Homo sapiens: one gene and its partners. The protein of the gene in region 2 interacts with the protein of the main gene of each other region in a pairwise test. Each region holds a gene or a part of one and is shown on either strand. Other genes may lie near its edges.

Region 1 (3,500 bases), on a different chromosome or scaffold from region 2:
CAGCAAAGGCCACTGTCAGGCCTCCTGTGCTAGCCCCGATGAATCTGGCCCACAAACTCCTGATTCATTAATCAGACACCCTGGACCCCAATAAAGGCTCGTTCGGTGACTTGAGTTGGGGAGCAGATCCCCTCACGCACCTGGGCTGTTGACTCTCAGGTGCTCTTTCCCAGAGGTGCCCTGAACATCCAGGACCCAGGGCTCATCCCCTCGCTCCAACTGCGAGATCACTCCAGGCTTGGGGCCTGCAGGTCCTACTCCTGGGAAGGAGACAGGGACTGGGGTTGGTACCAAGGACACAGGGCAGCACCTAGTGCTGTCTCACCCTGGGGCTGCAGGGTAAGGGAGGCACAGGCAGAGGGGGTGATGGAAGCCTGGACACTCTCTGGAGGGCACTGAGATTGGGCTGGGGCAGTCCTGAGCATAAGGGAATGAGAGCTCAGGGGTTCCCTCCACTAGGAGGTATGCAACTCCGCCCCCCCGGTGTCCCCCGCCCTACCAGGGAGGGGTCTGCCTGGGACCTGGGGCGAGAGGGAAGGGAAGGGCTGACTCAGGAAGGTCCCAGCACTGCTCTTCCCCTCATCTTCTCAGATCAGGTGCCTGCCTGGGATAAAGGTCATCACCTATCTGTGCCCAGGGGGTGAGGCCCCTAGCCCAGCCTCTGCTGAGCCCTTAGCCCCCAGGGCTGTTCCCAGAGCTGAGTTCTGGTGAGGGCCTTACCCAGTGAGACTAGGTTCCCGTAGGTCTCCAGCATCACGTCCCTGTAGAGGCCCCTCTGAGCAGGGCCCAGGCGGCCCCATTCCTCCCGGGAGAGGTACACAGCCACGTCCTCGAAGGTCACCTCGGCCTGGAATGACAGGGACTACTGCAGCCCAGGTGTGGTCCAGAGTGGGCTGGTAGGGGCGGGGAGGCAGCAGAAGCATGCTAAAGGCAGCAGCACAGTGGGTGGCCTGACCCATCTGCCACCGAGCCAGCTAATACATCCCAAGGGGTGGCTGCATGGGGGTCTCAGGGCCACCCCTACCATCATGTCAGCATCCCAAACCAGAGACACCTGGCAGTGTTTGCCAAGGAAAGCCCTGGGTAAAAACTTCACTCCTCCCAGGAGGACAGACACTCACCTGGGGTGGGGCAGACAGGAACAAGGCCGCCATTGCCTGAGGGTTGGGCTTTCTGAGGGCAGTGAGCAGGAGCTGGTCACTGAGGAGCTGAGGGAAGAGAACGCAACAAGTGGAGGCCCAGTCTGGCCCCTTCTTCCACAGCTCAGGCTACTTGGTGCTGCCATAAACAGCCCTGCCTGCCTCACTGGTCCACCCCTGCCCATCCCAATGTGGGTACTGCTAGCTGGCCTCCCGGACATAGACTCCACTCTTTGCCTGGGGCTGCCCTCTCCAGCTCCACCTCTTTTTTTTCTTTCTTTTTTTTTTAATGACATGACAGGGTTTCTCTTAGTTGCCCAGGCTAGAGGACAGTGGCGTGATCTCGGCTCACTGCAGCCTCGACCTCCTGAGCTCAAGCAGTTCTCTCACCTCAGCCTCCTGAGTAGCTAGGACTACAGGCGCGCACCACCACTGTTGGTGGAAGAGCTGAGGCAGGACTAGCTTGTCTGCCATAATGTAAAAGAGTCTGGGAACACGTCCTGGGTCCAGGGTCCAAACCCCCTCATGGCCTTTGGAACACCAAGCTCTGTGCCAAAGGGGGGAAGGCTGCCCTGCCGCTCCATAATCTAAGCCAAGGCATAAAAACCCTCATGGCTTGGATGGAATCCAGGGCTCAGGGCACAAAACCCCTTGTGGCTTGGATGGAATCCAGGGCTCAGGGCACAAAACCCCTCGTGGCTTGGATGGAATCCAGGGCTCAGGGCACAAAACCCTCATGGCCTCTGGAATGTGCACAGACTTGTTGGTTCCTTGCTTCTTGCTCTCCCAGGCTCATAAACATGTTCTCCATTATCTCAGGTAGCAGAGCATAGTACATATGTGTCAAAGAAAATGCTAAACCGTCACAGCTACGCTTGATGCACCGCTACCTTTCTATCCCCATGTCCTCATGTCCTCACCTGTCTACCCTCATGTCCGCACATCCTCACCACCTGCTTCTTTGTTCGATCATCAATAAATAGTGTGGGCTCCCAGAGCTTGGTGCCTTCACAGCCTCCATACTAGCGTTGGCCCCCTGGACCCACCTTAAGTACTCTTAACCTGTCTTTTCTCATTCCTTTGACTCCGCTGGACTTCATAGCCCCCATGGCCTGGTGTTGGGTCTGATCACCCCAACAATCACACCTGGCTAATTTTTGTATTTTTTTGTACAGATGGGGTTTTGCCCAGGCTGGTCTTGAACTCTTGAGCTCAAGCAATCCTCTTGCCTCGGCCTCCCAAAGTGCTGGGATTAAAGGAGTGCACCAAAGTGCCCAGCCTCCAGTCACCTCTACTGCCTGCTGCCCTCGGGCCGTCTATCCCCCTCCCTGCTCTGGCATGCTAAGCTGTCTCATTCAGGAGGAAAACGACAATACTCATTCACTTTACATGGAAGAATGAAGACAAAATGTTAAGGGCTAAGGAAGAAAAAATTAAAAATGATAGAAGGGGCCAAGCTCGGTGGCTCACACCTGTAATCCTAGCGCTTTGGGAGGCTGAGGCGGGAGGACAGCTTGAGCCCAGGAATTTGAGACAAGCCTGGGCAACATAGGGAGACCTTAATGCTACCAAAAAAAAAAAAAAAAAAAAATTAGCTGGCTGTGATGGCACACACCTGTAGTCCCAGCTACTTGGGAGGCTGAGGTGGGAGGATCACCTGGGCCCAGGAAGTAGAGGCTGCAGTGAGCTGTGATCGCACCACTGCACTCCAGCCTGGGCAACAAAGCAAAACCCTGTCTCAAAATAAATAAGTAAAATAAGATTGACTCACCTACCAGAAGCATGAGACTCTCGGATTAGATACATGTGATGCAACTATTTGGCCTAAAATAAAATAACACAGAAAGGCTAAGTATTAGTTAATATTAGATCAAACACTAGTTAAAATGAAGCTGTGGTAGCTATATATCTTTTCTGTATCTTTAAAGCTTTTTATTTAAGTATATTTTTATCATAAAAGTTGACAAATCCTGAGTACACAGTTCAGTGGACCATGACAAATTGCACAAGCCCATGGAACCAGCACCACAGTCAAGAAAGAACAGAACTGGCCGGGTGTGGTGGCTCACGCCTGCAATCCCAGCACTTTGGGAGGCTGAGGCGGGTGGATCACCTGAGGTCAGGAGTTCGAGACCAGCCTGGCCACCATGTGGTGAAACCCTGTCTCTACTAAAATACAAAAATTAGCCGGGCGTGGTGGCGGGCTCCTGTAATCCCAGCTACTCAGGAGGCTGAGGCAGGAGAATCGCTTGAACCCGGGAGGCGGAGGTTGTAGTGAGCCGAGATCGCGCCATCGCACTCCAGCCTGGGGGACAAGAGCAAGACTTCATCTCCAAAAAAAGAAAAGCAAAGAAAGCGAAA
Region 2 (3,500 bases):
GCTTAGCAAGTTTGATGTGTTTGGGCTGTGGCTGGTGGACAGACACAGAGATATTTTCAATGGTCGTGCTGGGAAGCTGCAAAAGCTTGTTCACAGTGGAGGGACTGTCTCCAGGTGTTGATTCTCGAAGTTTTGCCTGGGAAGGAAAGGACTCCAAACCAGGAGGAGGAACAGTGACTGCCTGGCTCTGGTGCTGTTGTCGCTGGCTCAACTGGCTAAGAACTGGGGATGGCTCAGGTTGAGATTTGAAGTCTAAAAAAAGTAAGCAGCAATTAATGAGGCATAATGGCTTCACAATGTTCTTCAATAGAACATGAAGTGTTCTATTACCACCAATTTCTCCAAATCATTTCCAGTTGAATTTCTTAGGTTTTACACACACTATGTGTAACACTTCATTTATGATAAACGGGAAAAGTTCCTAAATGGGTACACACCTTGTTTCCTATCCAGAGAGATTTGGTTTATGTTTAAGCATAGGGAGTGATGAACTCGTGAGAACAATATTATGGTGCTATACACACCTGACCATTAGCTAACAGAGAATCATACTTTTATTATTTTATGGATTTTCTACATAACTGTTAAAAATTTGAGCCAGGCACAGTCACTCATGCCTATAATGCCAGCACTTTGGGAGGCTGAGGTGGGAGGATTGCTTTAGCCCAGGAGTACAAGGCTGCAGTGAGCTATGATTGCACCACTGCATTCCAGCCTGGATGACAAAACAAGACCATGTCTTCATCCAAAAATTAAAAAAAAAAAAACTTATTAAGTTTTTGGACTAATTGATATATATATATATATGATGTTACAAAATCCAAAAGATGGCTGGGCGCAGTGGCTCACGCCTGTAATCCCAACACTTTGGGAGGCCGAGGCAGGCAGATCACGAAGTCAGGAGATCAAGACCATCCTGGCTAACATGGTGAAACCCCATCTCTACTAAAAATACAAAAAAATTAGCCGGGTGTGGTGGTGGGCACCTGTAGTCCCAGCTACTCGGGAGGCTGAGGCAGGCCCTATGACGTGAACCCGGGAGGCGGAGCTTGCAGTGAGCTGAGATGGCGCCACTGCACTCCAGCCTGGGTGACAGACTGGGTGACAAACAAACAAACAAAAAACAAAATCCAATAGATACAAGAATATGTATGACGAATATTATGTTTCTCTTCCACACCACTCTCCCATACTTGCTCCACAAAGGCAAACACTGTACCCGGTTTTCCTGAATGTCTCTTTCAGAGATACTATATCACAATATATATAGACAGACAGACAGACAGACATATATATACACACACTATATACCTTACTGTCTCACAAATCATTTAATTTCCATTGAGTGTCTCACATTAATGTTCAAAGAGCTACTTCATACTCATTTTGGTGACTACACAGAAATCTAGTACACATAGGTATCATTTTATAAAACCAGTACTATATTAATGGACTTTTAGGTCAAATCTTATGCTATTAAAAGCAATGCACTAATGAATACATTTGTATGTAAGATATTTTGTGCAAGTACAAGTATACCTGTAGGATCAACTGGTAGGATAAAGTTGCCCCTTCACAGGGTAAATATATTTTGAATTTTGATAAATATTATAAAATTACTGTCCACAGATAGAACACATCCTTTTTAACACACTCTAATATCAAACACTTTTGAATCTCCTGGTTTAATTGGTGGAAAATGGTATTAAAAAATACAAACTAAAATGATACAAATGTGCTAAGTATCATTTCATATACTTAAGTGTTCTTTACTTATAGACTGTTCTTATCTCTTTAGCCAGTTTTTTAACCTGTTTGTTGATCTGCTTTATTTTTACTCTTTTTATATTAAGGAAATTAACTCTTTTTGTCTATGATACAAATTTTGAGTATTTTTTTCATTGTTTGTCTGCCTAATTTGGTGTTTTCTGCCATACCCAGAAAGGTCTCCCTCACACAGAACAACAAAAAAATTCTCCTGTGTTTTCTCTATTATAGTTCTAGATTCACTATTTATGTTTAACTATCTGACCCACTGGCATTTTGGCATAGAGATCCAACTTCATTTTTCAAACGGTTTTAATAAAGCGTTTTTTCACTACTGATTTGAAAAGCCAGTTCTACCATATGGGACAGAGGTTGGCCCTCTTTTTCTCTATGGGGCCAGATAGTACAACAACCTAATATTTTAGCCTTTGTGTCTCATCACGTTGCCCAGGCTGGTCTCGAACTCCTGCTCAAGCAATCCTCCTCCTTCTGCCTCCCCAAGTGCTGGGATTACATGAGCCACTGTGCCCAGCTAGCTGAGTGTCAACAGAATTTAATTTAAAAAAAAACAAATGGCAGAGCTGGTTTAGGCGCATTCATTTTTGAACTTGGTATTATAGGCATGCACCAAACACACAGGTTTTATAAAGAATATGGGAATAGCATGGTTCTATCTAAAAAGTCCTATCACTCACTAGTTATGTGTGCAGAAAAAGTTAATATAGGGACCTACAATTCCTCTCAAAAAGGCCTGCTTGATGACTGGACCTTGGCTAATGTCTGAGAATTTGGACTGCTGGTATGTACTTGGCAAAGGGTGCCAACACACTAACCTATTAAGAGTGGCTCACTGTGCTAAGAATGTCTGTATAAACAATGTGGTTTATGCTCAACATCTGCTTTCCTTCTAGGAATCTGTAATTTTGCTATGTGCTATAGCAAAAAATGTAGGCACAGGGTACCTACATTTCTTGCCCCAGCAAAAACTTTGGGCACTGAGTCTCTAATGATTTCCCTTGGTAGACATCGCTTCAAACCCCGGAGTGGTCTCATGTACTTCCAACACAGTAAGTCATTTCACAGAACAGAGGAATATGCTTCCCTGTCTCTCTATATGCCCTAACCATAAACCAGCCCACATGGCCAGCTCCACAATGAATGAAATCCCCTGCTATTCCTTAATACAGTGTGGCATGTGAGTGCTGGTGGGGAATGGTGGCTTAATGTCACAATTTCTGTGGGAGTTTAGTTTAGAAAACATCCAGTCTACACATGGGACCTTTACAATACAAACCACGGAATGTAAAGGTTGATGAAATCATAGTTGATACTTCAAAATGTTAGAATGAGAAAGCATGAGAGTGTGATAGTTAAAATACTGTCCAGGCCGGGCGTGGTGGCTCACACCTGTGATCTCAGCACTTTTGGAGGCCGAGGTGGGCAGATCACCTTAGTCCAGGAGTTCCAGACCAGCCTGGGCAACATGGCAAACCCCTGTCACATTAAAAAAATACAAAAAAATCAGCCAGGAGTGACGGCATGTGCCTATAGTCCCACCTACTAGAGAGGCTGAGGTGGGAGGATGGACTGAGCCTGGGAGGTCAAGATGGCAGTGACGCGTTACTGTGCCACTGTACTCCAGCCTGTGCAACAGAGCAAGATCCTGACTCAAAAAAAAAAAAAATAAAATAATAGAGTAAAATATTGTCTAGGCTGGATACAGTGGTGCACAT
Region 3 (3,500 bases), on a different chromosome or scaffold from region 2:
CCACCCTGGACAATAAGAGCGAAATTCTATCTCAAAAAAAAGAAACAAAAAACAATGTTTAAAGGTTAGAAAATGTGACAGGTCCGAGTGTACACCTACTACTGGATTTCTAAATGACTCGCTGTGCTATTCAGGATAGATTATCTTCATGTGCTTACATGGTCTGCCAATATTAACAAACTCCCTGATTCATCTCAATATTAAAATGCCCTTTTTTCCCCTCCAGAGATCTACTTTTAAACATTTTCCTCTTAAATTTAAGTCAGTTAATAAAATAAGGAAACTCTCTGATCTCCAAAAAATGGCCTAGGGAAATCTCCATTTACACTGCAACAGCCAGATGAAGAAAAAATAACTATATACCTGCCTGAAGCAGACCAAGGGGGAGTAAAGAGGCATATGGAGACTGTGTAGGATACATCTTCAATATTTACTTTTGCATTTTTTAATTGTCATAAAATATACATAACAAAAAATTTACCATTTTCTGCATTCAACTTAGTGGCATTACATACATTCATAATGTTGTACAACCATCGCCACTGTTCATTTCCAGAAATTTTTTATCATCCCAAACAGAAATTCTAAACCCATGAAACACTATCTCTCCATCTTCCCTTCCCCCAAGCCCTGGTAATCTCTATTCTACTTTTTGTCTCTATGAATTTACCTATCCTAGTCATCTCATGCAAGTGGATATATACAATATTTATCTTCTTGTGTCCGGCTTATTTCACTTAGCATAATGTTTTCAAGATTCATTCATGTTATGGCATGTATTAGAACTGCCTTCTTTTTTATGGCTGAATAATATTCCACTGTACCAAAATATTCCAATATATAATACCATATTTTGTTTATCCATTCATCTGTTGATGGGCATGGGTTGTTTCTACCTTTTAGGTATTGTCAATAATGCTGCTATAAACACTGGCTTTTAAGTACCTGAGTCCCTGCTTTCTTTTGCGTATAGGAATAGGAATGGAATTGCTGAATCATATAGTAATTCTATGTGTAAATATTTATGAACTACAGAACTGTTTTCCACAGTAGCTTTATCATTTAACATTCCCAACATGCAATACACAAGGATTCCAGCTCAATATATTTAAGTATTCTCTAATTCACTACTTCAGAATAATGTTTACCTCTATTTCTTAATCAGAATTATTTTTCTTGAGATTAAAAAAACCATGATCGAAAAATCAGAAACAGCATCTAAAGACTTTTATTATTTTCTTTCCCATTGAATGACTTAAACAATAAAAGATATAGAAGGTATAGAATGGGTTTTTTAAAACCTTTAAAATACTAAGAGAAAATGAAGCATAATATCCTAGAAATACATTAAGTATCCTATATGTACAACTTGTACTGTTAAAAACTGGTCAAATCTGACCCCTAAGTAGACACATACTAGAAAACCTCGCATCTGAGTGACTGAGTATAAAACGTAAAATATCCAGAAATCTTTTAAAAGAAACTTACTCTTATTACTGGCAAGTTCATACAGTACCTGGAACTAAGCTGCCCAGGAGGATCTTGCTTTAGTAAAAGTAGAGGAGAAGGACATGTAATTACCTTATCTAAATACTAAACTCAGGACTCTCCACAATCTTGCCCAAACACAAAGGCAGAAGAAATGAAGCTAAAAGCAATAATGATGCTCTTAAACCTTTAACACCTGCTGTCCCCAATCTGCCATCAAATGCTTACACATGACAAAAGAAGTTAACAAGTAGCAAAACAAATGTCAATAGAAAAACTCCAAAACCAATAAATAGGCATAGTTGGAGTCTATTGGTAGAGTGGAGTGGGGTGGGGGAGGCAGATATTGTGTTTATTGTTGTGATGTATTTTGCAAGCAAATAATATAGTTCTACCCATTGCTGGTAAACTGTTTGTAGTTCACATAATAGCATTGAGTCAATCAATATTTATTTCATGGCAATCCACAGAGAGCACTGACTTTCCAGGGGCTCCTGTATCTCTATGAAAAGACCACCAGCAGACCAGCATCAGTGAATGCATTCTGCATTTTTACACTGCTTTTAAGTAAATTGATTTTCCCAAGGTGCTTAAAAGTGGTTTGTTCTTTTAATTAGGTAAATATTCCTCTTAAGATCTATTTAAACTTGATATTTACAGTAAAACCTTTTCATACAGAATAGGCAGCCAAACTTTATCCTAGCCTTGCCTAGATAATTGCAAATCCCTAATTAGCTACATCTAGAACAATGGCGTTATTTTTAATAGAGACCCCTCTTTCATAGGCTATGGGGAATCTTAAATCCCTTAAAAATAAATTAAACCATTATATTTCCTGGGATCTTAGAATCTTCAATTATTTCTAAAACATCCCACCTTTGTTCATGTATAAAGATCACTTTCTACACAATTATTTCAACAGAAAGCTTTTCATAATTGTGAGTTAGGATCATGTCAATTTAAGTAAGTTTTTATGACTAGTTGGCCTTTATGAAAATCTTTACTACTCTTTCCAGGGTCAAAACAAAGATGTATCCTTACATTCTAATATAATTTAGAAGCCTTAAAGTCTAACACAGCCTGAAGGTGCTCCAATTTTACTATTTCTCAAATTTCAGAAGGTAGCAAAGAGTTGAACTTACCACCATCCAGCCTTAGGAGTTTGGTGGTAGACACTGTTCTCTATACAAGATTCCAAAAACATCAGAACAGAGTAGAACATTCCATTAACAAAGAACCTGGTCTAGATCTCAACAAATGCATTCTGAGTCAATAAACAAGTAACTGAAATGAAATTACATTTTAAGCTCAAATAGAATCATTTAACACAAGACACACTTTGATACTTACTAGAACCTCAAATAACACTGTGACTCAACACCATCTCAGAAAAATCCCCTACCACCCTGCAAAATGGTTATTTGAAACTGATGAGGTATTTTAATGATATTATAAAAACAAAACAGGGCCGGGCAAGGTGGCTCATAACCTATAATCCCAACATTTTGGGAGGCTGAAGCGGGGGGATTGCTTCAAGCCAGAAGTTAGAGACCAGCCTGAGCCACAAAGTGAAACCCTGTCTCTATAAAAATAAAAAAAAAAACATTAGCCAGGCATGGTGGCGTGAACCTATAGTCCTAGCTATAGCCCTACTCAAGGATCACTTGAGCCCAGGAGTTCGAAGCCATAGTAAGCTATGATAGAGCCACTGCACTCCAGCAGCAGTGAAACACTGTATCTTAAAAAAGAAAAAGAAAAAAAATTAGGAGCCAATGTCTAAACTGACACTGAGTAGTGAGTGCCAAGGGCATCAGAAATTCTGATCCAACACTTACAGAATGCTAAACTTGCATATCTTAACTGGGGAGAAACAAAGAAAAATTCAACAATCGATCCATTTTCAAACTGACAAACATCCTCATCTGTATGTAGATGGCTGATCACGACTGTCTATCGATCTTATGTGATTTATACTTGGTGGTTTTAAAAACATTTCTGTCCCCTGATCTTCA
Region 4 (3,500 bases), on a different chromosome or scaffold from region 2:
GAGGAGCACCTGGGACAGCTTTCATGGTCTGGGACAGGACGATGCCCACAGGCTGGGCAGGGGGCTGAGTGGGTGGAAGAGAGCAGGCAATGGAAGGAGCTTTCCCTGGTAGTTTAGGGTTTGGCCAAGAGTAGGGCAGCAATGACCTGGATAATGGCCTGGAGGATCCCTTCTGGATCCTTCCTGACTCATTGGAAAGCATTACATCCCCCCACACTGGCAGGGCTGAGGGCCGGTTCTGGGCATGAGAGCTCTCAGTGAACCCGGCTGGGCCAGCGATGATAGCGGCTGGGTGGGGAGGGTGGGGGAACACTCACTTGAGGAAGGCGTCCTGGCTGTTCAGGAAGGGGAAGAAGGAGGGCTCACAGATTAGCCCGTGGTCCAGGCAGGTGTCGGTGCAGGCCCTCCCAGGCACGGCCAGCCAGGCCCGCAGGGCGTGCGCGGGGGGCCAGGCCCCAGGAGCCAAGCTGGTGTTCCGAGCCCACTCGAGGTGGGTGGCATTGGGGGCCAGGACAAAGGGGCTCTGCGGGGCGTGGGCCTCTGGTAGGGCAGGGTCTGGAGCTCTGCAGAAGTCCTGCAAGGAGGAGAGCAGTGTCAGGGTGGGGAAGTGCGACCCAGGTGTGCCTGGGAGACACCTGAAGGTGTGGCCCTGCCGTGCCAGTACGAGCCACCACTACTGGGCGCTTACTGAATACCAGGTAGCTTTACCTGCATTATTTCATTTACTTCTCATGGACACTCGTGTCTCCAGATCGCTTACAGGAATTATGGAGGCTCAGAGGTCACGGCATCCGCCCAGGGCCTTGGGGTTGGATGGCAGAACAGGACTTGGATTCAGGGCCCTCTGCATCCTGTGTGCCCTGGAGCTGCCTCGATGCTCAGGTCAGGCTGGGGTTCCTACCCTGGGGCCCACGAGCCCTGCCCTCCATGGGGACAGGGCCCCAGGCTGGCTGTGAGGCTCTCCCTGCAGGGTTCAACTCCAGGGGCCGGAGGGCCCCGCGAATGCTTTTCTGTGAGCTTCCAGTCTGGGTCCAGTCCTGGGTTCTGGCCACGGCCCTGACCCTCACCCCCTCACCTGAATACACTCTCCCTTCTGGGGGTTTCAGTATTCCCATCTGTAAAGGGACAGGGGAGAACCAGACTCTCTCAGCCCCTAATATTGGTGGGGCCAACAAGATGGAAAGGGAGGTCACGTACTATCTGTGGAAATTTCTTACAGCCATACGGCCACCTGCCCCAGGGCCCTGAGCCCAAGGCCCACCCCAGGCATCACCCTGGACACCCGGGGCCTGCAGAGCCACGCTCCATCTGGGCCACCTGCAGCCCTCATGGTGGCTCAGATCCACCAGGATGCAGTGGAGGGCCAGGACTCCCCAGGAATAGGGCACGCCCTCCTCCTCACCCACGACTTCCAGGCACTCTGAGCACCCGTGGGAGGAGAAGGAGTGTACTCCTTGGACAGGTGCCTGCCCAGGCGCTCCCTCGGGGGCTGAGGTGGCCGAGTTTTTGAAACCGTGGGGCTGTCCCCTGGTTTCTCAGGGCAGAGATCCTAATCTCCCATTCCAGTCTCACTGCCATCCTTAGCAGGTGGGCGGAGAGTCTGGGGATCTTCACTTCCCATTCAGTTACCAAATCCCAATCAGTTAGCAGACTTTCGAACCACTGTTTTCTAAGAACGGAAGTCTTTGTGTTTCTGTTAGTGCCGTGGAGTTGGGCTCTAAGGCTGGGCCCAGACAGCAGGAGTGCCCGGAGTGTGCTGCTTTCCAGGCCCGCAGTCAGGCCTGCCTGTCTCCAGCCCTGAGGGAACTCTGGGAAGAGACTGGACAGGCTGGAGGAGGGAGCAGGGAGTTGGATGGTTTCACGGGTGCAGGGCCCTGGGCAGACAATGAAGCTGGCTCAGCCCCCTCCTCTGGTCTGACAGGATCTGGGGCAGGGACCAGAGGGCTCACTGACCTGGTGCTGGATGTAGGCGTGGATCCGCTCCAGCATCCCCTCGCAGGTGTACTCGTAGGGTAGGTAGGGGTCTACCTGTGGGAGGGATGGGCAGACACATGGGGCGGGAGAAGGCCCAGCCGTCGGGGGCCCTGCCATGCTCGGCATTGGGGGTGGAGGTCTGGTGGGCTCTCACATCCTGTGCCATGCCCAGGGAGCCGACCACCCCATCCACCTGGCCCTTCCACCCAGCTCAGAGTCCCCGTTCCCCGCACACCCTCCAGTAGCCCTCCGGGACTCAGGCTCAGGACCCACAAGGCCCAGCCTCATCCCTCCCCACCCCCTCCCAGGTCCCTGTCCCAACTGCAATGAGGATAAAGCTCAGCGCTGTGTCCCCTACTGGGCTTTGACACCTCCTCTTCCCACAGCCCACCCACCCTCTTAGGCATCACCTGCTCCAGGGAGCTTTCCCTGAGCCCCACCCCCACTCCTGTTACAGGAACACTTTCCTTGGTGACTCCCAGCACCCCAGACTTCCCCCAGCACAGAATGAGCCCCTGTGTTATTGTCTCCTGTGTATTCGTCATGTCTCTCATAAACTTATGGACACCTTGAGGGTGGGGACTATGGCTTGTTCACACTGAATCTCCAGTGCCTGGCACAGTGCCTGGCATACAGTGGGTGCTCAGGAAATAGTCATGGAATGAAAAGGCATCCCCAGCTCTGCCTGTATCCTGCCCAAGACATGGGACATTCATGCAGAGGAACACAGGGGCATCTCCCAGTCAGCGGGAATGAGATGACATTTGTAAAGTACCCTGCCCCCACAGGCACAAACCCCCAAACAGAGGCCACAGGTTGTCTGTCTAAATATCTAATAGTTAGCCCGGCACGGTGGCTCATGCCTGTAATCCCAGCACTTTGGGAGGCCGAGGTGGGCGGATCGCCTGAGGTCAGGAGTTCAAGACCAGCCTGGCCAACGTGGTGAAACCCGGCTCTACTAATACAAAAAAAATTAGCTAGGCGTGGTGGCAGGTGCCTGTAATCCCAGCTACTTGGGAGGCTGAGGCAGGAGAATCACTTGAACCTGGGAGGTGGAGGTTGCAGTGAGCTGAGACTGCACCATTGCACTCCAGCCTGGGCAACAGAGTGAGACTTTGTCTCAAAAATAAATAAATAAATAAATATCTAATAGTCACACAGCAACCTGTCCTGTGGGCAGATGCATGCAGTAGCTTGGGTAAAAGAAACCAGGGGAGTGGAGGGAAGAGTGACAGAGGAGTAAGGGGGTACTCCTGCCTCCCCCCGACTTCTTAACCAACCAACCCCTTCCTGTTCCATTAACCTTCTCAGGCCCAGTGCAGAGCCACCGTGGAGAAAATCACTGACCTGAAAGGGCAGGGGCAGCAGTCAGGACTCAGGAAGGAGCCATCCCGGACTCAGAGAAAGGTCTGTTTTAGGCTTCAACCTCCCCACCCCACCATGCCTGGTGGCACCTGACCTGGCCCAGCCCATCTCCTAATGAGGCCGCTTTCCCGTCTTTAGCCAGTGGGTGAAATCTAACTGTT

What was found. Proteins that work in one complex are often made in the same cells at the same time.
Region 1: the proteins of UBAP2 (region 2) and ZNF34 interact in a two-hybrid assay, tested with the Homo sapiens proteins (one large-scale study listed by BioGRID).
Region 3: the proteins of UBAP2 (region 2) and FNDC3B interact in binary tests that used the Homo sapiens proteins (3 or more experiments, as listed by UniProt).
Region 4: the proteins of UBAP2 (region 2) and MGAT5B interact in a two-hybrid assay, tested with the Homo sapiens proteins (one large-scale study listed by BioGRID).

What each region holds. Positions count from the first base shown.
Region 1 is NC_000008.11:144,777,318-144,780,817, forward strand, and holds part of ZNF34 (zinc finger protein 34), read right to left. Parts: intron 2,964-3,500; 5' UTR 2,924-2,963; coding exon of another isoform or gene 2,915-2,923; 5' UTR 2,911-2,914; intron 1,209-2,910; coding exon of another isoform or gene 1,155-1,208; coding exon 1,122-1,154; intron 848-1,121; coding exon 721-847; intron 261-720; coding exon 141-260; intron 1-140. UniProt on the Homo sapiens protein: May be involved in transcriptional regulation.
Region 2 is NC_000009.12:33,944,388-33,947,887, forward strand, and holds part of UBAP2 (ubiquitin-associated protein 2), read right to left. Parts: intron 253-3,500; coding exon 1-252. UniProt on the Homo sapiens protein: Recruits the ubiquitination machinery to RNA polymerase II for polyubiquitination, removal and degradation, when the transcription-coupled nucleotide excision repair (TC-NER) machinery fails to resolve DNA damage. May promote the degradation of ANXA2.
Region 3 is NC_000003.12:172,046,078-172,049,577, reverse strand, and holds part of FNDC3B (fibronectin type III domain-containing protein 3B), read right to left. Parts: intron 1-3,500. UniProt on the Homo sapiens protein: May be a positive regulator of adipogenesis.
Region 4 is NC_000017.11:76,944,904-76,948,403, reverse strand, and holds part of MGAT5B (alpha-1,6-mannosylglycoprotein 6-beta-N-acetylglucosaminyltransferase B), read right to left. Parts: exon of another isoform or gene 3,147-3,500; intron 2,029-3,146; coding exon 1,954-2,028; intron 575-1,953; coding exon 318-574; intron 1-317. UniProt on the Homo sapiens protein: Glycosyltransferase that acts on alpha-linked mannose of N-glycans and O-mannosyl glycans.